Linked DNA regions of Homo sapiens. The protein of the gene in region 3 interacts with the protein of the main gene of each other region in a pairwise test. Each region holds a gene or a part of one and is shown on either strand. Other genes may lie near its edges. The genes, in order: SVOP, SLC16A7, FXYD6, ELOVL2, SLC47A1, SLC35E1 and SLC35E3.

The links.
Region 1: the proteins of FXYD6 (region 3) and SVOP interact in binary tests that used the Homo sapiens proteins (3 or more experiments, as listed by UniProt).
Region 2: the proteins of FXYD6 (region 3) and SLC16A7 interact in binary tests that used the Homo sapiens proteins (3 or more experiments, as listed by UniProt).
Region 4: the proteins of FXYD6 (region 3) and ELOVL2 interact in binary tests that used the Homo sapiens proteins (3 or more experiments, as listed by UniProt).
Region 5: the proteins of FXYD6 (region 3) and SLC47A1 interact in binary tests that used the Homo sapiens proteins (3 or more experiments, as listed by UniProt).
Region 6: the proteins of FXYD6 (region 3) and SLC35E1 interact in a two-hybrid assay, tested with the Homo sapiens proteins (one large-scale study listed by BioGRID and IntAct).
Region 7: the proteins of FXYD6 (region 3) and SLC35E3 interact in binary tests that used the Homo sapiens proteins (3 or more experiments, as listed by UniProt).

Annotation. Positions count from the first base shown.
Region 1 is NC_000012.12:108,907,241-108,910,154, reverse strand, and holds the end of SVOP (synaptic vesicle 2-related protein), read left to right. Parts: 3' UTR 1-2,414; downstream 2,415-2,914.
Region 2 is NC_000012.12:59,784,529-59,788,028, forward strand, and holds part of SLC16A7 (monocarboxylate transporter 2), read left to right. Parts: 3' UTR 1-3,500. UniProt on the Homo sapiens protein: Proton-coupled monocarboxylate symporter. Catalyzes the rapid transport across the plasma membrane of monocarboxylates such as L-lactate, pyruvate and ketone bodies, acetoacetate, beta-hydroxybutyrate and acetate.
Region 3 is NC_000011.10:117,838,659-117,842,158, reverse strand, and holds part of FXYD6 (FXYD domain-containing ion transport regulator 6 precursor), read left to right. Parts: intron 1-130; coding exon 131-169; intron 170-293; coding exon 294-368; intron 369-974; coding exon 975-1,011; intron 1,012-1,790; coding exon 1,791-1,840; intron 1,841-2,328; coding exon 2,329-2,357; coding exon of another isoform or gene 2,358-2,378; intron 2,379-3,500. Other genes in the region: FXYD6-FXYD2 read-through protein isoform 1 precursor, read left to right, coding at 131-169, 294-368, 975-1,011, 2,329-2,378. UniProt on the Homo sapiens protein: Associates with and regulates the activity of the sodium/potassium-transporting ATPase (NKA) which catalyzes the hydrolysis of ATP coupled with the exchange of Na(+) and K(+) ions across the plasma membrane.
Region 4 is NC_000006.12:11,037,806-11,041,305, forward strand, and holds part of ELOVL2 (very long chain fatty acid elongase 2), read right to left. Parts: intron 1-3,500.
Region 5 is NC_000017.11:19,536,854-19,540,353, forward strand, and holds part of SLC47A1 (multidrug and toxin extrusion protein 1), read left to right. Parts: intron 1-3,500.
Region 6 is NC_000019.10:16,569,616-16,573,633, forward strand, and holds the start of SLC35E1 (solute carrier family 35 member E1), read right to left. Parts: upstream 2,801-4,018; 5' UTR 2,750-2,800; coding exon 2,329-2,749; intron 1,968-2,328; coding exon 1,897-1,967; intron 1-1,896. UniProt on the Homo sapiens protein: Putative transporter.
Region 7 is NC_000012.12:68,752,676-68,756,175, reverse strand, and holds part of SLC35E3 (solute carrier family 35 member E3), read right to left. Parts: intron 1-3,500. UniProt on the Homo sapiens protein: Putative transporter.

The DNA.
Region 1 (2,914 bases), on a different chromosome or scaffold from region 3:
CCGTCTCTACTAAAAATACAAAAAAAAATTAGCCAGGTGTGGTGGCGGGTGCCTGTAGTCCCAGCTACTCAGGAGGCTGAGGCCGGAGAATGGCGTGAACCCAGGAGGCAGAGCTTGCAGTGAGCCGAGATCGCGCCACTGCACTCCAGCCTGGGCGACAGAGCAAGACTCCATCTCAAAAACAAAACAAAACAAAACAAAAACTCTTTGCCTTGTAAATAGCCTGCCTTTTTCAAAAAAATCAATATTATCAAATGATACAAGAGCTATCACAAAAGGCACCCAAACTTCTGAATATGTGAGACCTTTAGCTGAGAACATTTGTATCTAATTTTGAACAATCCTATTCAAAAAGCTCCTATTTTCGTTAATGGAAATGCCATGTTTCTCTTAGAGTTACGAAAGATCTCAGAAAGTGGCAAAAGATATTTAATGTAGCCAGAGCTATATATTTCTGTTTTTCTCGTACTTCAAGTATTCTGAAAAACATATAACTGACCTTGGTGGTGTTCACAATGGGATGAAACAGTATCTTAGGAATTGACTTTGAAATTAGTATGGAAATTCATTGTTTTTAATATAACATTGAGCAACAGAAAGCCTTGAATGATAAGATCAAGAGTCTCCCCTGCCATTATTTTCAATGGCAAAAACTGCAATTACTTTTTTTTTTTTTTTGAGATGAAGTCTCAGCTCACTGCAACTCTGTCTCCCAGGTTCAAGCGATTCTCCCTCCTCAGCCTCCTGAGTAGCTGGGATTACAGGTGCCCGCCTTGATGCTTGGCTAATTTTTGTATTTTTAGTATAGACAAGGTTTCACCATGTTGGTCAGGCTGGTCTCAAACTCCTGACCTCAAGTGATCCGCCCACCTTGGCCTCCCAAATGCAATTACTTTTGCACCAACCTAAGAACAGTAATCTCAGTCAATAGTGGCTTAAACCATTAGAACCAAAACCAGGCAGAGATCAGAGAAGGTTCAACGCTCAACAATGTTATCAAGAACCCAGCTTCTTTTTGCCTTTTCTTTTCACCATCCTCTGCATGTTGGCCATCTGACCCTGTGCTTGAAACCTCATGGTCACAAAATGGCTGCCCCTGTGCTGGACATCATATTTCTTTTCAAAGAAGGTAGAATGGGAAAGGAGCAGTCATAAAAGGTTTTCTTTCAGAAGAGTCTGTTGGTTTTGGTTAGAAAAGGAAGTCCCCTGGCAGATTTACCATTGCTTCTCATTGATCAGACCTGGGTGTCATGCCCATCCCAGCATGAGTCCTGCTGTAGGGCTGGAAGGAAGGGCCTACGAGCACCAAGGGATACCCACAGCCTCCTGAACACAAAATTGGGATTCTGTTAGCACAGAAGAAGGATAGCAATGGCTGTTGGATGGGCGATGGTTGCAAGGAGCCTGCCGTGGATGTGTAGGCCACAGAGCTCTCATCAGCACTGTTTTCGTGGCCAGGAACAGAAATTCTACTCAGGATAATTAAAATTAAGGAACAGAGCTTTATTATAAGACTGGGATCGGTAGTTAATTTCCTACAGGGGAAATTCAGGGCATGTAAATCAGTGAAATGGAAAAGGTGTAAGGACAAGAGAAACACCAGCCCTGTCTGCAGGGGGGGGCTGCAACTCCCTTCCAGCTGATGTTGTTCCACCATGGGTCCAGTGTGACCAGATCTTACAATGTTCAAAAGAGGAGTCTAGGTTTTTCTGTGAAATCTCCAAATATTAGTATATTGGATCAAAAATGTTCAAATGATGTGTGAGCTCAATAAAATGCATCTGCAGTGCAGCTTTGGTTGATGGGCTGATGGTTCACTCTGACAGTTTAGAGAGATTGCATAGGAATAAAGTACAGCCTGGTGTCATTCAGAGGAACAGGGATCTGGGAAACCACTGGGGCCCAAGACAGCTGCCCCTCTGAATCTGTGGCTCTTGTTTCTTCCCTTTTCTGGCAGAAATGAGTCTAGCTTCCATCTGTTTCCTTGTGGCTGCTGTGTATGCATAATCATGCACAGAGCTTCCATAGCCTCATAACCCAGCTCTGCAAACATACCTGACTCAGCTGCTCAGTGCCCCACTCCCAGATCTTCAGGAATGAAGCTGATTGGCCCAGTTTAGTGTTGGATTGAGTCTTGGTCCAATTCAATTGGGTCAGGAAGAAGTGGTGGAGAGGTACAGACACGGTGGCATTGGCCTGCCCTTTAGCAGGGTGGTGCAGACAATTGCTGGTATGCCTGGAATCTGCAGTGACATGTGCATAAACTCTCAAGTCTATTCATCAGAACTCTCTTACAGATCATAACGTGGCAAGTGGTCAGTATGCATGGAATATCCAGCATGTCCTGGACATGTTATTCAACACTGAGGATGCAAAATATCATAAGACATGGTCCTGGCTGGGTGCAGTGGCTCATGCCCATAATCCCAGCACTTTGGGAGGCTGATGCGGGAGGATCACTTGAGGCCAGGAGTTTGAGGCGGCAGTTCGCTTTGATCGTGCCACAGCATTCCAGCCTGAATGATAGAATGACAGATCCTGTCTCTTAAAAAACAAAACAAAACAAAACAAAACAAGCCAGGTGTGGTGGCTCATGACTGTAATCCCAGCACTTAGGAGGCCAGACGGGAGGATCGCCTGAGCCCAGAAGTTTGAGACCAGCCTGGGCAACATGACAAAACCCTGACTCCAAAAAGAATACAAAAATTAGCCAAGCCTGGTGGTGTGCTCCTGTGGTCCCAGCTACTTGGAGGCTGAGGTGGGAGAATCACCTGAGCCTGGGAAGTCGAGGCTGTAGTGAGCTGTGACCATGCCACTGCACTCCAGCCTGGGTAACAGAGTGAGACTCTGGCTCAAGAAAAATAAAAGAAGAAGGAAGAGGAGGAGAAGGAAGGAGGAGGAGGAGGAAGAGGAA
Region 2 (3,500 bases), on a different chromosome or scaffold from region 3:
TAATACAACTTACCCTACACCGTAGCTTATTTTTCAAGTTTCTCTGAACATCTTTGTTGTCATTCACCTCTTTGTCTATTTGTTCTGTAGAGAAAACAAGTGTCATTGCTTTTGTCTTCTCCATCTAGACTTTTGCAGTCCTTAGACTATAGTTCTCCTTAGCTCTATTCAAATAGTGCACTTGCAAGGCGCTGCATTCTTCTCAAAGTCAGCCATGATGCACATATTTATAATTACATACACATATAATTGAATATGATTTTAGAGTCTTGAAAAACTGATCTTCTTTGGCACTATCCTGAATGTTTCTGATTTTCTTAAAGTGCCTGACAATATTGAGTAACAAAGCTTACCATCACCACATTGCACCATTATGTATTATTCTGTCTCCATCAATGCAGTGACATCACTGATACATCATACCAACAAGATTTCTAACCACAACCATTCAGAGCACTAATTAGCATCTATATTGAGAATATAAGATTAATATTACAAACTTGACTTTACTCATCTCTCTTTAAGATTTTGATTTCTGCACAACCATATGCAGAACTCATGTTTGAGAAGGCACTTAAAAGCTGAAAGGCCCAATTATCAGTAATTATAATGCTTGCATGATCAAAATTACAAATTATCTTTGTTGATACAATTAAAAATGAGTAATTTTCTGAGCTTATGTCACTTTTTTATAGTTCTGATTTTCTCTTCTTTCCTATCAGTTGTTTGTACACTGGAGATTTTAGCTCTTTACAGGGTGCTACAATCTGGTTTATTTTAGTCTTCTCTCCTCTACTGCTTTTTCTTCACTTTAATTCATTTATGTGCAAATCAGGGAAGAATTGCTGTAGTATTGAGAATGGTCATTTTAAAAGTCTCTACCTTAAGAGCAAAATTAATATTGCAAAATGAATTTTTGATTTTACAGAAGCATATGGGAATTTAGATCAAATTACATCTCCCATCCCAATCTCCTGCTTCTTCATCATCTCCTAAATGTTTTCCTTTCTATGTTTTTATAATATCTAGGTAAAACTTGTTTAGCATTTTTTATTTAATTATGGACATATTTAGTATGGACTTTTGTTTCTTTGGTATAGTTAGTTACACTTGTTTGCATGATCTACATGTTTTTCAGTCTCCATATATACTTGTTAATAAGGTGAGCAATATTCAGGAATATTTCAGTAGGCAATTAATGATCATAAATTTATTCACATTTCAGTAAATATTTTTCACATGATCAAACAGGATTTTTTGTTTCTTTTTAATTTAAATATGGCAAAATAAGCTAGAGAATCTCAGTGTGAAAACACTGATACTGAACATTCTATTAAAATAGAATAAGTTCGTGTAGGGACATGGATGAAATTAGAAATCATCATTCTCAGTAAACTATCGCAAGAACAAAAAACCAAACACCGCATATTCTCACTCATAGGTGGGAACTGAACAATGAGAACACATGGACACAGGAAGGGGAACATCACACTCTGGGGACTGTGGTGGGGTCGGGGGAGGGGGGAGGGATAGCATTGGGAGATATACCTAATGCTAGGTGACGAGTTAGTGGGTGCAGCGCACCAGCATGGCACATGTATACATATGTAACTAACCTGCACATTGTGCACATGTACCCTAAAACTTAAAGTATAATAATAATAAATAAAATAAAATAAAATAATAAAAATAAAAATAAAATAGAATAAGTTGATAAAAGCTCCTCTGTTCAGAAAAACAAAAGAATGGCATTTTATCTCACATAAATTTAGGATGAAATTTTAAAACATTCTTTTGACTAAGACTTTAATTCTTATATGCATCTAAAATAAATGTTTTGAGTTAGACTCAGTTTATATAGCTTCCTCGTTAGAGTACACATTTTTTTTCTCATCCTCCGAATCTCAAGAGTACATATTTCTGACAAGCTTTTCAATGGTACGATGGATTTTATTTTTCTATCATCAACTTTCTATATTTAACTAAAGCATTAGTATTTCTAGATTTAGTGAAATAGCAAATATGAATTAAAATATTTATTTCTAAACATTAGATCTAATTGTATTTTGATTTGTTTTGATATATTTATGTCTCAGAAGATATGTTTAATGAATTCATTTCATCCTCTCAACCCTCAGTTTTGATAGGTATCCACATTTTTACCATATAAAACTAGACTGGATTAAGGATTTTGCCTAAACCTATACCAATACTCTGAATAAATGCAGGGTTGGAGATAGAATTCAGGTCTTTTAACTTCTAACACACTTTTTTCTCCATTGCACTACAGAAGCCGTAAGGTCATAATGATGATCTTTGTAGAGTAAATAAAATATTTTCCTAGAAATATATATAACAACCCTACTTGATAGTTTATAGCCCAAATGAATATATTTTTCCAATCATGGTTTGCAAAATCATGTTTGCAAACTTACTTTGAAGACTATTTCCTGATTGCCACGGCAGATAATTCGTGGCAAATCAGAAATAATATTTAGTGAGATTAATTATTTTGCACAATATATGTTGTTATAGCAATATCAAAATCATTTAAAACATCAATATTGTATTAATAGAAAACATGTCAATATCTCATTAATTCCTTTTTTATTTTATGTTCCTTTTTATTTTAGAAGCAGTGTTCATTTTTTTCTGAAGTAGAACGCCAGAGCACAGAACACACAGTTCAAGTTTAAATTATTAAATTGTATGCAAGAAATTATTGCCATAGCATAGTCTTGAGGAGAACACCTCTACAGTATTTCTTGATCTAAGAACCTGAACATATGTTAATGAAATTATTAGAGTAAGTTCTATCTCAAAAATTTCTTATTTTATGAATGTTTTCTTCACCTAATAAACAATACTAAAATCCATAACAGCTGTCTGGCAACAGTGTAATTAGAGCTTCTTTTATGTTAGAGATTCCATCTACCTCTGCATCTTATCTAGCTAGATACAGTCTTTCTAAACTTTCTCCTTTATTCCCATGTAGAGAACAAACAAAAATCACACCTAAATTAAAGATCTGTGGTGAAGGGGAAGAGGGGTTGCTATTAGGAGTTTTCCCGGTAAAACTGTAAAAACAGTAATCTGCATTCAGTATTTGTTTGCCTAGTTCATCAAGATATTTACCCTAAAAACACATTTTAATAAAAATTTGGGTAAACTCATGTATCGCAGTAAAATCTTTTATGAATTGGGTGGGCCCTAAAAACATCTGTAGTACGTGATGTGTTTGGTTAGATTCAGCCAAACCGACACCCGTATGCTAAGACTGCATTGTCATTCTGACAGGAGGCAGGCCTCAGTAGTTGCAGTGAGTGCATTTACTAATATAAGGATCCTTCTTTGTAGTGACAACAAAAATGAGATTGTAACTTAATCAAATATGAGTCAGATATAGTAATTCCTGATATTGCAGATGAAAGAGCAGGGTCTTTTCAAGTGCTTGCTACAACTGACTAAATTTGAAGCTTTTTATGTAAAAGTTCTTCTCC
Region 3 (3,500 bases):
CATCTCTGTTTAATGGGCCCTGCTCCTCTGGAATTCCTTTGTGGAGACTGAGGTCTGTGAGGCAAGGTTAGATATTTGGGAACCAGTTTGTGTAGCTTTCTTTCTCTTGACCAACTGTTTGTTTTTGCAGCAGCTGAAAAGGAGAAGGAAATGGACCCTTTTCATTATGGTGAGCGATGGCAACCCTGGGTGCAGGGGTCAGGGGGAATGCAGCCCTGCCTGGCAGGAGGGGTAGGGGGAACAGACACCCTCTCCCTGGCCCCTTCCTCTCTCACCCTTGGTTCCTTTGGCAGATTACCAGACCCTGAGGATTGGGGGACTGGTGTTCGCTGTGGTCCTCTTCTCGGTTGGGATCCTCCTTATCCTAAGTAAGTTTGTTCTTTTGCTCACTCTGTTAAGAGCAATGACTGAGGCTGCTAAGCAGGTGGGGACAGTGTGAGAGCCTGGTTGGTCCCTCTCCTGGAGAGGAAAGGAGGCTGCCTGCCCTCCGTGTTATCTTCACGACCCAGTAGAGTGCTGGGCACATAGTAAGTGCTCAGTAAAACAGTGACACGGGAACAAAGAAAATGTCATATGACAATGAGCATAGATAGGAACGAGCAGGGTGGCTTCCCAGTGCTGTGTCTATAGGGCATGAATGGGGCAGTCACGGAGGAAGGAGACAGGTGCTGCCCTAGTGTGCGAGGGATGTGCCTCCGAGTTTGTTGTTCCCACATGAGCCTGATCTGCACAGATCCCTCTTTACTCACATGATCAAGAGGGCTGTGGGGGTGTAGCCATTCCAGCTATAGAATGTATTTCCTTTGCCCCAGAAGAAGCTACCCCATCCGAGGGCCACTGTGTGCAGCTGTGCAAACTGTGCACTGCCCAGGTCTAGGGGGTGCCATTTACATAGTCCCACAACCTGCACAGACCCTTGGCCCTGCTGTGGCCAAGCCAGCAGCATGACCTTGGATGGTTTCTTTGCTTTTCAGGTCGCAGGTGCAAGTGCAGTTTCAATCAGAAGCCCCGGTAAGGATGCCGTGGCAGTGGCCTTGGGGGGGTGATACTAGGTGGGACAGGAAGGGACCCCTGGTGTGTGACCCCCAAATGGGCATTCTCTTGGATTCTTGTCTCGGAGGCAGAACGTGTGTGTTGGGACGTAGGGCTGGAAGTTTGAGGACTGCCAGGTAGACTCTGGGGCAAAGGAGAGGTCAAAACATTGAAGGTCAGCCCATCCTGTCTCTTCTGATCTATGTGGGGGACGGGGAGTGGACAAGAAAGTACTGGAACCTTTTCTGGAGGCCCTTGGGACAGTTGAGCTTGGGAGAAGGGAAGCAGAGGGCTTCCTGGCCTCTCTAGATGCCCAGGTCCTCTCTACAGGACCTGCGACACAGTCCCCACTTGTCACCTGTTCATGAGGCTCTTTGAGCTGAATAGACACTTGGACCTTCTTTCTACTCCCACATAGAGGTCATACCCCATTAGTTTACTATAATAGCCAAGGGTAGCTTGGACCCCAGAAGTCCAAAGCGTGTGGCAGGACACACCCAAGCCCCCATGTGGCCCTAGCCTCCCCTTCCCATGAGGGCTGACATTGAAGGGTGCCTGTAAGTTCCCTCTGAGTCTGACCCTTCAGTCCAGACCTTTCCCTCTGTCCCATGCATCCCACAGCAGAGTGAGCTCCAGCCCCTCAGGGCACTGGGAGGAGCCTGACTGCAGGCAGCTGTGCCCCAGTGAGGAGCAGAACGATGCTCTCTGGGTCTGCCCTGGAGATCTCTGATGGGGCTGTGTGTCTCTTTCTCCTGCAGGGCCCCAGGAGATGAGGAAGCCCAGGTGGAGAACCTCATCACCGCCAATGGTAACTGTCCGTGACCACCTGCCCAGGTGGAAAAGAGGGAACAGAGAGACCCCTCTGTGGCTCAGGAAGGGACTGTTGCCAGGTGCATGGCCAGCCAGACATGCTCCCGCAGTGCCAGGAGAGTGGGTCTCCAGGGCCTCTGCAGCATTGCCCCCTCACTCCACCAAACAGGCTACTACTAGTGTCACCTGCTATTTACAGAGCATCTGCTTGTGCCAGGCACAGACCCCATATCATTTAATGGGCACACAGCCCTGAAATAGGCATCATTGTCCCCATTTTGTAACCGAGGGACTGAGAGAGGTTACCAGGTTCCTGTAAGCAGCAAGTAGCAGGGCCAGGATTGAACCCAGATCGTTCTGACTCGAAATCCCATGCCCGTCACCTCTTTGCTCCCCCAGAGTCAGGCAGAGACACGGCTGCTGTTGGGGGTGGCCCACGGGGGTGAGGAGTCTATACACTATAATCCATTCTGGTTTTCTTTCCAGCAACAGAGCCCCAGAAAGCAGAGAACTGAAGTGCAGCCATCAGGTGGAAGGTGAGATGCTCAGTGCCTGGATTGGCCCCTGTTGCCATCACCGTCTGCATCAGGGCCTGGACAGGGGTTCAGGCGGGAAGGATGGGGCTAGCTTTTGCAGTGGGCACAGCTTTTATTATGGGCCCTGCCCTGAGGAGCCTTCAGGAGTCTGAAAGGGGCTGTGAGAGAGACCAGGACTAGAAACACCCGAAGTGTCCCACACACATGCATGCCAACACCAGGAAATGGGGCTTCCACACAGCCCACTGGCCGAGTGCATAGGGCGTCATCCCAAGTGCAACATGGGAGAATTAGAGTTAGTGAAATGCTCCTAATCTCAAAGTAGCATAAAGATAATGGCTTTCCGTGGTGACTCAGAAAGTACTTTAGGGCCACTTGTTTTTTTAAACACCTTATTATGAAACTTCCCAACCCTAACCAAAAGTAGAGCAAATAGTATATGATCCTTCCCTCTCCACATTTAAGGGCACTGATTTTAGTATCTATTTCCATTGTTCATCGTAGGGGGCACAGGAGAGTAGTAACTGGCAAATGCTGTACAGTTTTCAGAGTGCCACCACACACACAGACTCACTCGAGTCTGCCAGAAAAAGAGGATGGGACAGGTGGGGTTTAGCCCATTTTATAGGTGAAACCAAGATGAGAGGGAATAGCCCCGTGGAGAGTGACAGCCCGGACTGTGAACTCAGGCCTTTGCGGCTGTGGTTCAGCGCCACTGCTCCCCTCTGTCCTGTGCGTCTCGCTTTATGACATGCCCTGGAATATCCTAAGGGAAAAGGTTTGTGTTTTGTCAGCTCACTTCTGCCTTTTTTTCCCCCCATACAAGTAAGGCATTATAGAAAGGTATATAAGTTTATCTCACATTGTAAGGTAAAAGAGGTTTCTGGATGATGAAGTGCCCGATGCACCAGCTTTGACTGTGCGTAACAATATCGTGTGCCTGTGTAGCATTTAAATTCTTTCCTAAGTGCTTTTGCATCCTCATAGCGGCCCGTGATGGGCAGAGCAGGGCTCATTACTCCCGTCTTCTGGATGGGGCTCTCGAAGGCAAGTGATCACCTAAGTGCGAATGGACGAAGATTCCGATCTAGGAGGCAGGTGCCCTTCCTGGTAGCTTGGTGT
Region 4 (3,500 bases), on a different chromosome or scaffold from region 3:
CTTTGCAGGTTCCATTTTCTGTATATATGAAATGAAACTTAAGACTTTATATATTTAATATGTTTAAGTGTATATATGCAATATATGTATATATCCATATCTATCTATCCATCCCTGTAATTTATGGGAAAGAAACTACATGGGGAAGTCACTCTGATTTTTCCATTTTCATATGTAATAATGGGGAAAAGTACTACTGCCTTTCTCAAAGGCTAAGGCTATATGGAATAGCAGAAGAGGTGGTTATTTTGGATTGAGAATATTTAGAGCTGGTTTTGCTACCTCTAGTATGTGACCTTGGGCAAATTATTTATCTTCTTTGAAACTGTAAAGTAGGTATGTTGCTACAGGACTTGCCTCTCACAAAAGTTTTTTTGTGAGGCTTCAGAAAGAGTTAAGGTGGATTAAAATGCATTGAAAAACATTCAACTGATTAATAAATGTAAAATAGTATTATTATACAGTACTTGAATCATATTTAAGTTATGCTAACTAAAGGCCACACATATATGTAAAGTAAAAATAATTATTTATTCAGCATGGTGTGCGCCTGTAGTCCCAGCTACTCGGGAGGCTGAGGCAGGAGAATCGCTTGAACCCTGGAGTCAGAGGTTGCAGTGAGCCAAGATTGCGCTACTGCACTCCAGCCTGGTGATGGGGCAAGACTCCAGCTCAAAAATAAATAAATAAATAAATAAAAATAAAAATAAAATTACTCAGCAAATCCATATATCATAGCTTTGTTTATATTTTAAGATAATCATTTTTAATTTCAGCAAGAACTTAATGCTATAAGTATAGATTTATCTAAAAATAGAAATACATATGCATTTTAATTTCATTAAAAACTTATGATGAAATATGGATTAAATTATTTAAAAATGACATAACCTGGCCCTTTCCACAAATATGACTATGAAGTGTAAATATGCTGTAGGAATACATATTATCATTTACTAAAAGGTTACACAGGCAAATGTGTATTGATGAAGCAGCTGTATTACTGAAACATGCTCAAACTGAATTGTGATAATTAAATAATTTTAAATTTATCAAGAGATTAATGATTAAATGGTTCCAAGTGCTATGTAAATTAGCAAACTGCTAGTTTTAAGTGCTGTGGAAAAAAAATAAAGCAGTGTAAGAGGATCAGGTGTGGTACATATCCAACTGTGTGTGTGAATATGGTGTGTGACATATGGTAAGGCAGGTTCCAGTTTTAGTAGAGTGGTTAGGGTAGGTCTAATCATGAAAGTATTAAGCAGACAGACATAAAGCTCTCTGGGGGAAAGATGTATACAGCCAAAGGGCAGCCAATGTAAAGATGCTGAGGCCCCATTTGATTCTAACAAAACAATCTTGTGACAGAGATAATACACCATTTAGCAAGTGAGTAAACAGTGTCTCAAAGCAACTTAAGCAAGGGAATGGAGCTAGTAAACAATAAAGCTAGGGCTAGAACCCAGGTTTCTTGACTCTTGGTCCAGTGCCTTTCGTTTTCTCCCTCTGTTCACCAGGCACACAGGAAGGTGCCCTGTTTCTTAGAAAGCACTGCATAAACATCAAGTTTCATTGCTATTGTGGTGGTGGTGGTGATTGTGATTATTAATCAGTTCCATGATATTTCTCTGTTACTATTTTTTAATTTATGCATCATAGTTGTACATATTCCCAGGGTACATGTGATGTTTTGGTACATGTATACAATGTAATGATCAAGTTAGGGTAACTGGAATATCTATCACTTCAAACATTTATCTTTTCTTATGTTAGAAATATTACAATTCTCATCTAGCTATTTTGAAACATAAAATAAATAGTCATATAATTTCTCTACTGTACTACAGACTACTAGAATCGATTCCCTCTGATATTTCCTGAAAGGAAAATAAAACTCAAAGAATGATTTCATCTTCCCTTCCCCTAGCTTATTTTTCTCCTTTATCTGTGCTTCTTTTCTTGAGTGGATCATTTTACTATCAGACTATCTGTGAAAGTAATTATACTTCTCTGGATATTTGACAAAGGAAAGGTATTAAGGGTAGGAATAACCTATAAAATAGAAACCATTTCTGACAACATGAAAAAGGGCTGAGGAAGGAATGGAGAGAATGTGGAGCCCAGTGATTCAGCGAGAGATATACATTTTCCAAGAGACAGGAAGTAAAAAAGTTAAAACAAAGAGTCTACAAAAGAGGAGATCTGTAGAAAAGGCAAAAATGGTGGAAAGGGGGCTCAAGGGGTGGAGGAAAGAGATTTTGAAATATTTTCAAGTAAAAATATGAGAATATTAGACAACAAACAATATAAAATAAAAAAGAGAATAAGAATCAGATTTCAGACACAGTAGACTGAAGAGCTGGTGGAATTACTAACAGCAAAAGAGAACAGAGAAGAGAGTCTGAAAGATGAGTAGCTTTCTTTTTGTAATGCTGGGTTTAAGGTGGCAGTGAGGTTCTCACTAGTGGAAAGGGTGTAAGAGCTTTAAGAGGTAAACTTGGAAGTTGTGTACAATCTAGAGCTCTTTGTCCAATACGGTAGCCTCTAACCACAGGTGGCCACTGAGCCGCTGAAATACGGCTAGCCTGAACTGAGATGCACTCTAAGCATAAAATACACACTAGATTTTGAAGATTTTCTATGAAAAAAAACAATGGAAAAATCTTTTTCTGCATTGATTACATGTTGAAATATTTGCATGGATTGGGTTAAATAACATTATTAAAACTAATTTCACTTGTCTCTGTACTTTTTAAATATGATTAGTAGAAAACTGAAAATTACATATGCGATTTATGTTATATTTCTATTGGACAGCAATATTAGTTGTATATTAAGACCACAAAAGGGACAGAGACATCATTCTGAAGTGTCTCAACTAAAATAGATATGGGAGAAAAAAGAACACACATCATTATAATAGTTAATATTTACTAAGCACTCCAAGCACTGTTTTAGACACATAAAGGGCACCATCATATTTGTTCCTCCCGAAAACCTTATGAAATATTATCATCTTTTACAGGATAAAATACTGAAGCCCAAGGTCACACAGTTAAATGCTGGTGTCAGGATTCAAGCCCACGAATGACCTCAGATCTCAGGTTCTAAACTGTCACATAAATTTCAGAACAAGTTATGCTCTCCAATTATTAAATGGTTAGATTTAAAATGTCATAAATTAACTATTTATTAGAATTGTTCATTGTCAAAGTCAGTTATGTCCCAATTCAATTAAGAAGAAAAGCTACAAATGCGTGAATCTGTAACTGTAGAATTACTATGAGCTACTGATGCTGGCGTATTTTCACCACATTGGGCCATTAAAGAAGTTTCTGGTGCAACTTCTTTCCCCTTATCAATGTCTACTCCCAGAAATGCAAACCTGTCAAGTTAGATGATACATATCCAACTGTCCAACCCAGACGATCATCCACCTAACCCTGAATAGCAGGGCCCTGTTTTCTGAACATAACTAGATACATAATATCTACTTGACA
Region 5 (3,500 bases), on a different chromosome or scaffold from region 3:
AGTTAACCCTGACCCTTGAGGTCTCACTGGGCTTTAAATGAGGGCTTTGTAAAGAGAGTAACCCATAACACAATGGAAATGTGAGCCGAATGGTGCTTATTTCTCAAAAGATGCGTCCATTTTATCCTGGAGAAAGCTTGAGGAAGACTGGATTTGCAAGGGAGGGAACGTGCAGATACCTGGCCTCAGGTACTCCAGCTGTGCCTCTTCTTGGTCATCAGCCTCTCATCACCTGGCTGAATCAAAACAGCAAAAGTTCTGAAAAGTAACCCCAAAGATGGACCCCGGGCATTGCCCGGGATGTAACAGAGGTGGGATAGCCCAGGCCCCAGCTCAGGGAAATGTTTCCACTTGTGTGGGAAGGAGCTGGCGGACCTTCTAGGGTTACAGGGCAGAAATATCAGAGAAGGCAGGCAGGTTGAGGGGGGTGAGGTGGGGGATCTGGAGAGAACCGCTTTACCCGGGACACACAAAGGAAAAAATGCAGGCTGATCTTTTGAATTGTATCCTGAAGGCAATGGGGAAGATATTGATCAGGAAGTGGTTACTGACACCAAATTCTGCAGGGGAAGCCTGGTCAGAGACAGACAGGCCTAGGCCCGAGGAGGGGAAGACCTACAGGGAAGGTGGTTCCTTCCATTCAAAGGGTGAGAGGAAGTAGTCAAAGATGGCAGGAGCTGGACAGAGGAAAGCCGGGTGAGGTCCGGCCCCCACGCCTCTACTCCCCGTTCCCTCCTCCAATCCGTCCTCACCAAGGCCTTTGGCTTTAGCTCCTTAAATACCTCTCAGAGGGATCCACTTTTTCGTATCTCCGCTCTCATGCTCCAAATGGAGCCACCAAGTCCTTTTCAAACGCACATCTGAGCTTGTGCCTCCTGCTCAGAACCCTTTCCTTGGTTCTGCAAAGCCCTCTATGGCCTGGCCCTGGCCAGGCCTCCAGCCTCATCTCTCGTCCCTATCTCCTGGTTACACCCTCCACCCAGCCTCCTTTCAGTGCCTCAGCCTGGAAAGTCCTCCCCGACAGACAAGTCTCCAGCACCTGACTATTTGACATTGACTTGTTCATCATGCAGGTTTCAGCCCCACTTCATTTCCCCCAGAAACCTTCTCTGAATTCTCTGCTGCACCCCACAGCTCATCATGCAAATGTCTTGAGCTGTGTTATTTATTGCGTTTTGAACATCTTTCCCTATTCCACAGATGCTCCTTGGCTTACGATGGGGTTATATGCACTGAAAATATCATTAAGTCAAAATGCCTCTAAAGGATGAGATCACGGATTGCGAGAGTCCTGACTTGCGTGGGACGCATGCTATCCCCGTGCTGGCCAATTATCTTCAGTTCCATTGCAAGAGTAATAGCTGCCTTCTTTTCCCCAGAAGCAGGAGGCACAGATGGCCATTTTGTAGTTATGATGGGATGCAAAAACACAAAACAAAATACCCAAAAAACGCTGGCAACACAGTCCACTGTAGAGTGTCAGCTGCCTGCTCTCGTGATGGCAGGGCTGATGGGCAGCTGTGGCCCACTGCCCTGACAGGCACTGCAAGTCTGAGACTACACATCACTATCCGGGGAAAAGATCAATATCCCAAATTCCAAGTACAGTTTCTACTGAATGTACATTGCTTTTGCACCATTGCAAAGCTGAAAAATTGTAAGTCAGGACCATCTGTACTGTGGGTCCCGTGGGGCAGGAATGGAGTAATGGTGTCTAACTCACACCTGTTCCCCCAGTGCTGGGATGTACTTTGTGCTCCAAAGACAGTGGCCTTATGTAACCATCTGAGTTGAGAGTCAGGTGGCTGGGCTAGTTGCGAAACCTCCTGGGCTGTGCTTCCTCACATGTAAAAGAAGGGGGGCTGTCCCAGGTGACCTCTCAGCTTCTTTCCAGTGAGTGAACTTTCAGCAATCATGGGAGGGGGTAGGAGAGGCTGTCTGGAGGTGCCTGGCCCTGGAGAGCAACTTCTAAAGCTGCCAGGCGCTGAAGGTCTTTATCTGACTGCCAAGTTTGCTTATTGTTGTCTGGCCAAAATCTGAGCAGGGTCACTGTGACAAGAAGGGACGGAAGCACGGTCAGTCTGGAAGTTTCTTTGTTTGAAGCAGGGTCTCGCTGTGTCACCCAGGCTGGAATGCAGTGGTGAGCTGAGCTCAAGTGATCCTTCCTGCTTCAGGCTCCTGAGTGGCTGGAATTGCAGGTGCATGCCACCACGCATGCTATTTTTGGTATTTTCTGTAGAGACGGGGTCTCTACAAAATGTTGCCTGGGCTGGTCTTGAACTCCTGGGCTCAAGCAGTCCTCTTGCCTCAGCCTCCCCAAGTGCTGCGATTGCAGGGATAAGCCACCGTGCCCGGCCCAGTCTGGCAATTTCTGTCATCCATTCAGCTCTGTCCAAGCCACTGCCAGTTCAGGCTGTTCTTCAGACAGCAGCTGCTGAGACATCTAGCGGAACAGGCCTTTGTCCAGAATTGGTTCATTCCCCGAGCACAGAAATATGCTCTGTGACAGCACAGTCCCAGAGGGTCTGGAGCACTCTCAAAGTGTGGCCCTGGACCACATGCATCTTGCCTGGTGTGTATGAGGGAGCATGGGGATATACTGAAATGAAGATTCCTCAGCCCCAGGGAACTCCTGGGTCTTTTTTTTTTGAGATGGAGTCTCTCTCTGTCACCCAGGCTGGAGTGTAGTGGCTTGATCTCCGCTCACTGCAACCTCTGCCCCCTGGGTTCAAACGATTCTCCTGCCTCAGCCTCCCGAGTAGCTGGGATTACAGGTGTGCACCACTGCACCCAGCTAATTTTTTGTATTTTTAGTAGAGATGGGGCTTCACCATGTTGGCCAGACTGGTCTCGAACTTCTGACCTCAGGTGATCTACCTGCCTCGGCCTCCCAAAGTGTTGAGATTACAAGGCGTGAGCCACTGAGCCTGGCCTAACCTCCTGGGTCTTGCGATGGGCCAGGGCAAAGGCTCCCAGGTGGCCCTTATGTACATGATCCACAGTCTATGGCCAAGCGTTCACCCAAAGGGCTTGAAACCAGGATCTGAGAAGAGGTTAGTAAATCTGGACTCAAGCCAAGATCCCTGGCACGGACTTTCAGGATGGGCTGACTGCATGAGGCTGCCCGACTCAGGCAGTCGGAGTACAGGGTTGTTGCCGTAACCCTGGCAGAGCTGCGGCAGCTCTCAAAAAAACTATTTTTGCTGGCATTGACATTGAAGATGCATCTCACATGGATTAGTCTAACTCAGCTCGACTTCCTGGCCTTTTGTATCCGAGACATCTAATGATTCCCTTGGACTGGCCCCCACCCAAGTGAGAAAGATGTTCAAGGCAGTGCAATTTGTGATGGTAAGATCTGGGCAGCACTCCAAAGGCCGGGCAGTAGGGGAGACCGAGCACACTTCCATGTGAAGCCATGAAAAACAGCTCACAGGTGGCCCACAGGGAGGCAGGGAACTGTGGAGTGTAAACGTGATGTTCCGTGGGAAAGGAGAAGA
Region 6 (4,018 bases), on a different chromosome or scaffold from region 3:
AGGGCAGATCACTTGAAGTCAGGAGTTTGAGACCAGCCTGGCCAACATGGTAAAACCCTGTCTGTATTGAAAATACAAAAATTAGCCAGGAGTGATGGAACGCGCCTGCAATCCCGGCTACTCGGGAGGCTGAGGCAAGAATCGCTTGAACCCAGGAGGCGGAGCTTGCAGTAAGCTGAGATCGCACCACGGCACTCCAATCTGGGCAACAGAGGGAGACTCCGTCTCAGAAAAACAAACACTCTTAAGGAGAGATAGGAGAGGTGGAGATTTTAGGAGGGAGTGGTCATGCCACAAGGAGGGCAGACCGAGGGCTGTGGACCTGAATTCCAGCTTCCCGAATATCAGGCTGTGGCCCTCAGGCACATGATTCTCCCCTCTCAGTCCATCTCAGGAAAACCTGAGATCAGGAATGATGACTACTGGCCTTATCTGCCTTGCAGGGCAGGTTCCTAGAAGTTATGATGTCATTATAATTAGTCTGGCTGCCTAACCGGGCCAATTCCCAGTCTTTCCTCACTGTGTGAAGTTCCGGCTCCTTGCCCAAGCTGGGTACAATGTCCCGTACAACGGGGAAACCTGATACACACGATGATATCCGGTGATGCAGCTACACACCTCAGGGACAACTCTGACTTCTCAGGAGCCAAGTCACAGCCTGACATCACCCTGGGGGAGCAGGGCTACAGAGCACACACAGGTCTTGCTGAGACAAAGACAGGCAGGAATAAAAAAAAATCAGCCATAGGTGGCCCAATTTCTATAAGCCGATCCAGGGCACTACCTCTCTGAGTTACATAAAATACAACATGCCAGAAACCAACCACTTGGAAAAGAGGCACGGTGTCCAGCATCAGCATGAAATGGATTCCGGCTGAGACAACAAGCGCCCAACTTCCACTTAAGAATACGGGATAAAGCTGTCTCCGGCTAAAGCCATGGCTATTCTTGCCCCAAGCCAGGAAATACCCTGGCTTGGCATCTTGAACAGAATTTGGACTGTGCCCAAAGCATCCTCCTTATGCAGCCCTGAGTCCTGTGTGCCACTTTCGCTTCCGTTCCCAGACCATCACAACTTCTGGCTGTTTTAATTTCTAAGACTTTGCTGGATTTTGCCAAGATCGAACTCCTTGGATCGCGTCTGGCTTCTGATCCCAGAGGTCCCCTGACAGAAATCTCTTGTCAAGAAGTGAAAACCTAGCCAAGTGCAGTGGCTGACGCCTGTAATACCAGCACTTTGGGAGGCTGAGGCGGACGGATCACTTGAGGTCAGGAGTTTGAGACCAGCCTGGCAACATGGTGAAACCCTGTCTCTATTAAAAATACAAAAAAATTAGCCAGGTGTGGTAGTGCACGTCTGTAGTCCCAACTACTTGAGAGGCTGAGGCAGGAGAACTGCTTGAACCTGGGAGGCGGAGGTTGCAGTGAGCTGAGATTGTGTCACTGGACTTCAGGCTGGGCAAGAGTAAAACTCCGTCTCAAAAAAAAAAAAAAAAAAGTGAACACCTAACCGACAGCGTTCTGATCCATCCATCCCTAGTCCCACTGGAAAGGCCACACATGGGGTGTATGGCCAAGATGTGACCAACCCATCACCTACCAGCAAACCCAGGTAGGGAATCAAAACGGGGAGGAAAATTGGATCTGAAAGGGACAACAGTGTTCCTAAGACCACACAGCAGAGATCACAGAGGGACACATACTCCACACACCACTGCTCACAGGGTGATTCTAGAACTTGAGTAGTAAAAGGCCACTGGAGACCTCTACACTGACTTCCCTATTTGACGGGAAGCCAGGCAGCCTGCAGACCAGGATCCTGACCACGTCACCAGTTGGCAACAGGGAGGAACCCCCTGGAGCTCCCATCTGCCCAGAGTCCCTGCCCGGGGTTACCTTGGTGCTCTGCTTCTCCTTCATAATGATCCGGGACAGGAGGACCACCCAGATGGGCATGGTGGCCTTGACTGCAAAGAGAGGGATGGGCACTCAGGGGGCTGCCTGAATTTCAGGGCCCAACCTGTTCCACCTCCACGGCGGGATGGGAGGGCCTGGCAGCCCCTCACACCTCTTCGCCCCTTCTCTTTCGGTAGGGCTTCCTCCTGCCACGGCTGTTGTGGTCTGTCCTGCTTACCTCTCAGCTCTCTTCTCAGCTCCTCTTCTCCCTGAGAACCCCGTGCGTGTCCCTCCCCTACCAAACCCTTGGCAGCCCCTCTGCTGACTTCTCAGTCCGGCGGGACGCGCCCCGGGCGGCGCACTCCTATCCATGCGCCCAAACCCGAAGCGGCGGGCCCGGCCGCCGCCCCCGAGGCCGGGCGCGGAACCTACCGGTGTGTGCATAGGACACGGGCACCTTCCAGATGCTGACGTGCGCTGACACGGACGCGAAGTACTTGCCGAAGGCGAGCGGTAGCACGTAGCGCGGGTAGAAGCGCGGCGGCAGCAGCGGGCCGGACGACGGATGCGGACTGGGTCCGGGGCCCGAGACGGGCGGCGCGGGGGGCACGCGCCAGGCGCGCAGCAGCGGCGGGAGCCCAGCGCACAGAGCCAGGATGTGGCACAGCGACACGGTCACCGGGAACGGGAAGGCGCTCAGGATCACCTTGTTGACCACGTTGCCGCCCGCGCTCAGCGCGTACCACAGCAGGCACAGCGCCGCCACCCGCGCGCCCTCGCGCGCCCCACCACTGCTGCTCGCTGCGCCCGGGCCCCCCGCGCCGTGGCCCGCGCCCACCGCGGCCGCCGCCATCCTGCCCGAGCGGCCGCCCCTTCCAGCCCGTCCGACGGCCCGACGCCGGGCGGGGGCGGGGCTGGGCGGGGGGGCAGGCGCCCCGGTCTACGCCGTTTCCCATTGGTCGCTGCCTCCTCGCGTCATCCCTCCGCGCCGGCCGACGCGCCAGCCACCACGTCTCGAGTGCAGGCCCAGTCCACTGTAGATGCGCTTCCGGCGGAGCCGAGGCCGGAAGCGGAAGAAGGGGACACAGACCTGCGTCCAAGCTGTGCCACCTGAGACGTGGGCGGTCCCAGTGACCGGGAGCCGGAGCTCGAACGGGACGGGCGAACAGAAGCGCGGAGGGCTTCGCAGCGTCGGCGTCTGTGCGTGGGCCAAACATCAGGGCCTCGACCAGGGATACAAGGGCAACCGCTAACTAGATTCCTGATTCCTGATGGCTGGCGGCGGCTGACACCAAAGGTAAAAGGCCTTTTAGGGAAAGAAACCATTTGTGAAAAGCTCTTGGGCTAAACTCGCTCTGCAAACTGGGGGCGCACGCTCGTGGCCAAACTCTGGCAGTGGGACTATCCCGGAGCACCCGATCCCTGGAATCATGTTCTGGAAACCACCGCGACGTGCGCAGTTCTCGGGCGTGGCCCTGGTATCATCCCACTGAATCCTAGGAACGCGGTGCGGTAGGTATCACTGTCCGCATTTCACAGACCGAAGTCCAGAATGGGGAAGCGACTTGTCTTAGGCTTCCTGGCCACACTGGGGACCGTGGTCATGGTAGCGTCCTTGGACACCTGTCTCCAAGGCTCTGCAGAAGGGGGAGGTGCCGGGCCCTGACGGCTGATGTCCAAGGACCAGCCGGGATGGACCAGCCCCAGGAGGCCCCAGTGGAGGAAAACAGGACGAGGTTTTCAGTAAGATGATCTTATACTAATTCAAGGGCTATAATTTGTTCTCCACATCGTGTGCCTCCAACTTTTTCGGGGAAAGGGTGTTAAAATTCCGTTACAGTGTTTTTACTTGTCAAATTAGAAGCAGCAACCGGCTGGGTGCAGTGAGTCAAGCTTGGAATCCCAGCACTTTGGGAGGCCAAGGTGGGCGGATTGCTTGAGCTCAGGAGTTGGAGATCGTGGCATCGATAACATGGCAGAACCTCATCTTTGCAAAAAATACAAAAATTAGCCAGGCGTGGTGGCGCACGCCTGTGGTACCCACTACTAGGGAGACTGAGGTGGGTGGATCGGCTTGAGCCCAGGTCAAGGTTCCAGTGAGCTATGATGGCGCCACTGCACT
Region 7 (3,500 bases), on a different chromosome or scaffold from region 3:
ACTTTTGCAAAGTGGAAATATTATCTGATAGATGGTCCAATGACCTCTACTTTAGAAAAAAAGTGTATATGGTAAAATATATAAATTTGAAATAACTACTGGTCTACTTAGGGGAAGCAGAGCGGAGCACTGGAGAACACAGACTTTGGACCCAGAAGGCATGTATCCAAATTGTGTTTCTGCTTATTAGCTGTGGGATTGCGAGCCAGTTACTAACTCTTTATCTCTCGGTTTCCTCATCAGTAAAAATAATAACAATGGTAATATAGTTTGGATGTTTGTTCCCTCCAAATCTCATGTTGAAATTTGATCACCAATGTTGGAAGTGAGGCCTAGTAGAAGGTGTTTGGGTTATGGGGCTGGATCCCTCATGAATGGCTTGGTGCCCTCCCCAGGGTAATGAGTGAGTTCTTGCTCTATTAGTTCTCATGAGAGCTAGCTGTTTAAAAGAGACTGGCATTTCCTCCCCTCTCTCTCTTGCTCCCTCTCTCGCCATGTGACATGCCTGCTCCCCCTTCACCTTCCACCATGACTGTAAGCTTCCTGAGGCCCTCACTAGAAGTAGATGCCAGCACTAATGCTTCTTGTACTGTCTGCAGAACCATAAGCCAAAATAAACCTCTTTTCTTTATAAATTAGTCTCAGGTATGCTTTTATAACATCATAAAATGGACTAATACAAATAGTATTAGTATAGCATCAACCTAATAAAGTTATGAAGATTAAATAAGTTAATATTTACATAGTGCTTTGAATAGTGCTGGGAACAGACTAAGGGCTATATAGGTGCTTGATAAATTGATGCGACCAACAAAAAAGATATTCCCACTGACTGTGTTCCAAGAGTTGTGGGAACTCTTGTGGGAAGCAGGAATTCCTGATAAGTAAGGTATTATGGACTGAATGTTTGTGTCCCCCCAAAATTCCTATGTTGAAATCCTCACCCGCAAGGTGATGGTATTGGGAGGTGGGGCCTTTGGGAGGTGACTATGGCATAAGGGCAGAGCCTTCATGAATGGGATTAGTCCCTATGATAAGAAGAGATACAAGAGAGCTTGCTTCTCCTCTTCCTTGTTGTCAGATGAGGATATGGCAAGAAGACTGCCATCTATAAAGCAGGAAAAGAGCCTTCACCAAGAACCCAACCATACTGGCAGCCTGTTCTCAGACTTCCAGACTTCAGAACTGTGAGAAATGAGTATTTGTTGTTTAAGCCACCCAGTCCATTGTAGTTTTGTTATAGCAGCCTGAACTGACTAAGACATAGGAGGATTATACATTCTAACTTAAAATGTCCCCAACGCATTAGTCCTAGCTGCTTGGGAGGCTGAGGTTGGGGGGATCACTTGAGCTCAGGAGCTTGAGGCCAGCCTGGGCAACATAGCCAGACACTGTCTCTAAAAAATAAAAGTCCCCAAAATACATATGCCCTTGATTTGCCAATTCCACTCCTGGGACTCATTTCCATAGGAAAAAAGTTATCAGTACATGAGAACACATGATGTACAAGGATGTTTATCACAATATTGTTCATAGTGGTAAAGAACTGGGAAAAAAGTGAATATGCAGAGGGGCTATTACACAGACACCGGCTGGGCGCGGCGGCTCACGCCTGTAATCCCAGCACTTTGGGAGGCCGAGGTGGGTGGATCACTTGAGGTCAGGAGGTCAAGACCAGCCTGGCCAACATGGTGAAACCCTGTCTCTATCAAAAATACAAAAAAATTAGCCAGGCATGGTGGCGCACACCTCTAATTCCAGCTACTCGGGAGGCTGAGGCACAAGAATCACTTGAACCCAGGAGGTGGAGGTTGCAGTGAACAGAGATCACGCCACTGCACTATAGCCTGGGTGACAGAGTGAGACTCTGACTCAAAACAAAACAAAACAAAACAAAAACAACAACAACAACAAAATAGACCCTGGAAAGAATGCTTTGGAGAGATTTTTAGGAGATATTATTAAGTCAGAAAAGCAAGATACAGAAAAGCATATGTAATAGGATTCCACTTTTGTCAAAGAAACAGATGTGGCCGGACACGGTGGCTCATGACTGTAATCCCAGCACTTTGGGAGGCCGAGGCGGGTGGGTCACGAGGTCAAGAGATTGAGACCATCCTGGCCAAGATGGTGAAACCCCATCTCTACTGAAAATACAAAAATTAGCTGGGCGTGGTGGTGTGCGCCTATAGTCCCAGCTAGGGTCTGAGGCAGGAGAACCGCTTGAACCCGGGAGGCGGAGTTTGCAGTGAGCCAAGAATTGCACCACTGCACTCCAGCCTGGGCGACAGAGTGAGACTCCATCTCAAAAAAAAGAAAAGAAATAGATGTTTAATTGGGGTGTGTGTGTGTGTGTGTGTGTGTGTATGGATATATACGGCATGGAGAAAAATATGGAAGAACAAGCACTTAGAAAGTTAACATGACTTCAAGGGGCACGGATTAGGGGGTAATGGAATGTGGAAGATTAGGGGGTAATGGAATGTGGAAGAGTGTGTGGCTAGGAAGGCTGGGGAAAAGGAATCTGCAATAAAAACAGCATCTATGATATCATTCCATATCTAAAATTATACACACATGCATGTGTACCTATGTGTTTATACAAAAGAGATCCATGAAATGATCCTCACCAAAATGGTAAAGGTAATTACCTTAGTGTGATAGGGTTCCAGAGGCCCTTCACTTTCTTTTGTTGTTGTTGTTTTGGTTTGGTTTTTTTTTTTGAGACAGGGTCTCACTCTGTTGCCCAGGCTGAAATGCAGTGGTGCTATCTTGGCTCACTGCAGCCTCGACCTCCTGGGCTCAAGTGATCCTCCCACCCCAGCCTCCCAAGTAGCTGGGACTGCAGGCATGTGCCACCATGCCTGGCTTTTTTATTTATTTATTTTTTTTCTGAGACAGAGTCTTGCTCTGTGGCCCAGGCTGGAGTGCAGTGGCACAATCTTGGCTCATTGCAACCTCCACCTCCCAGGTTCAAGCAAATCTCATGCCTCAGCTTCCTGAGTAGCTGGGATTACAGGAAGCATGCCATCACACTTAGCTAATTCTTTTTTTTTTTTTTTTTGAGACAGGTGTGATCCCAGCTCACTGCACCTCCACCTCACGGGTTCAAGTGATTTTTGTGCCTCAGCCTCCTTGAGTAGCTGGGATTATAGGTGTGTGCCACCACGCCTGGCTTATTTTTGTATTTTTAGTAGAGACGGGGTTTTGCCATGTTGGCCAGGCTGGTCTTGAACTCCTGACCTCAGGTGATTTGCCTGCCTTGGTCTCCCAAAGTGCTGGGATTACAGGCATGAGCCACCGCACCCAGCCTCAGCTAATTTTTTTGTATTTTTAGTAGAGAATGGGTTTCGCCATGTTGGCCAGGCTGGTCTTGAACTCCTGACAAGTGATCCACCCGCCTCAGCCTCCCAAATTCCCAGGATTACAGGCATGAGCCACCACACCCTGCCCATTTCTTAATTTTTTGTAGAGATGAGGTCTTCCTATGTTGCCCAGGC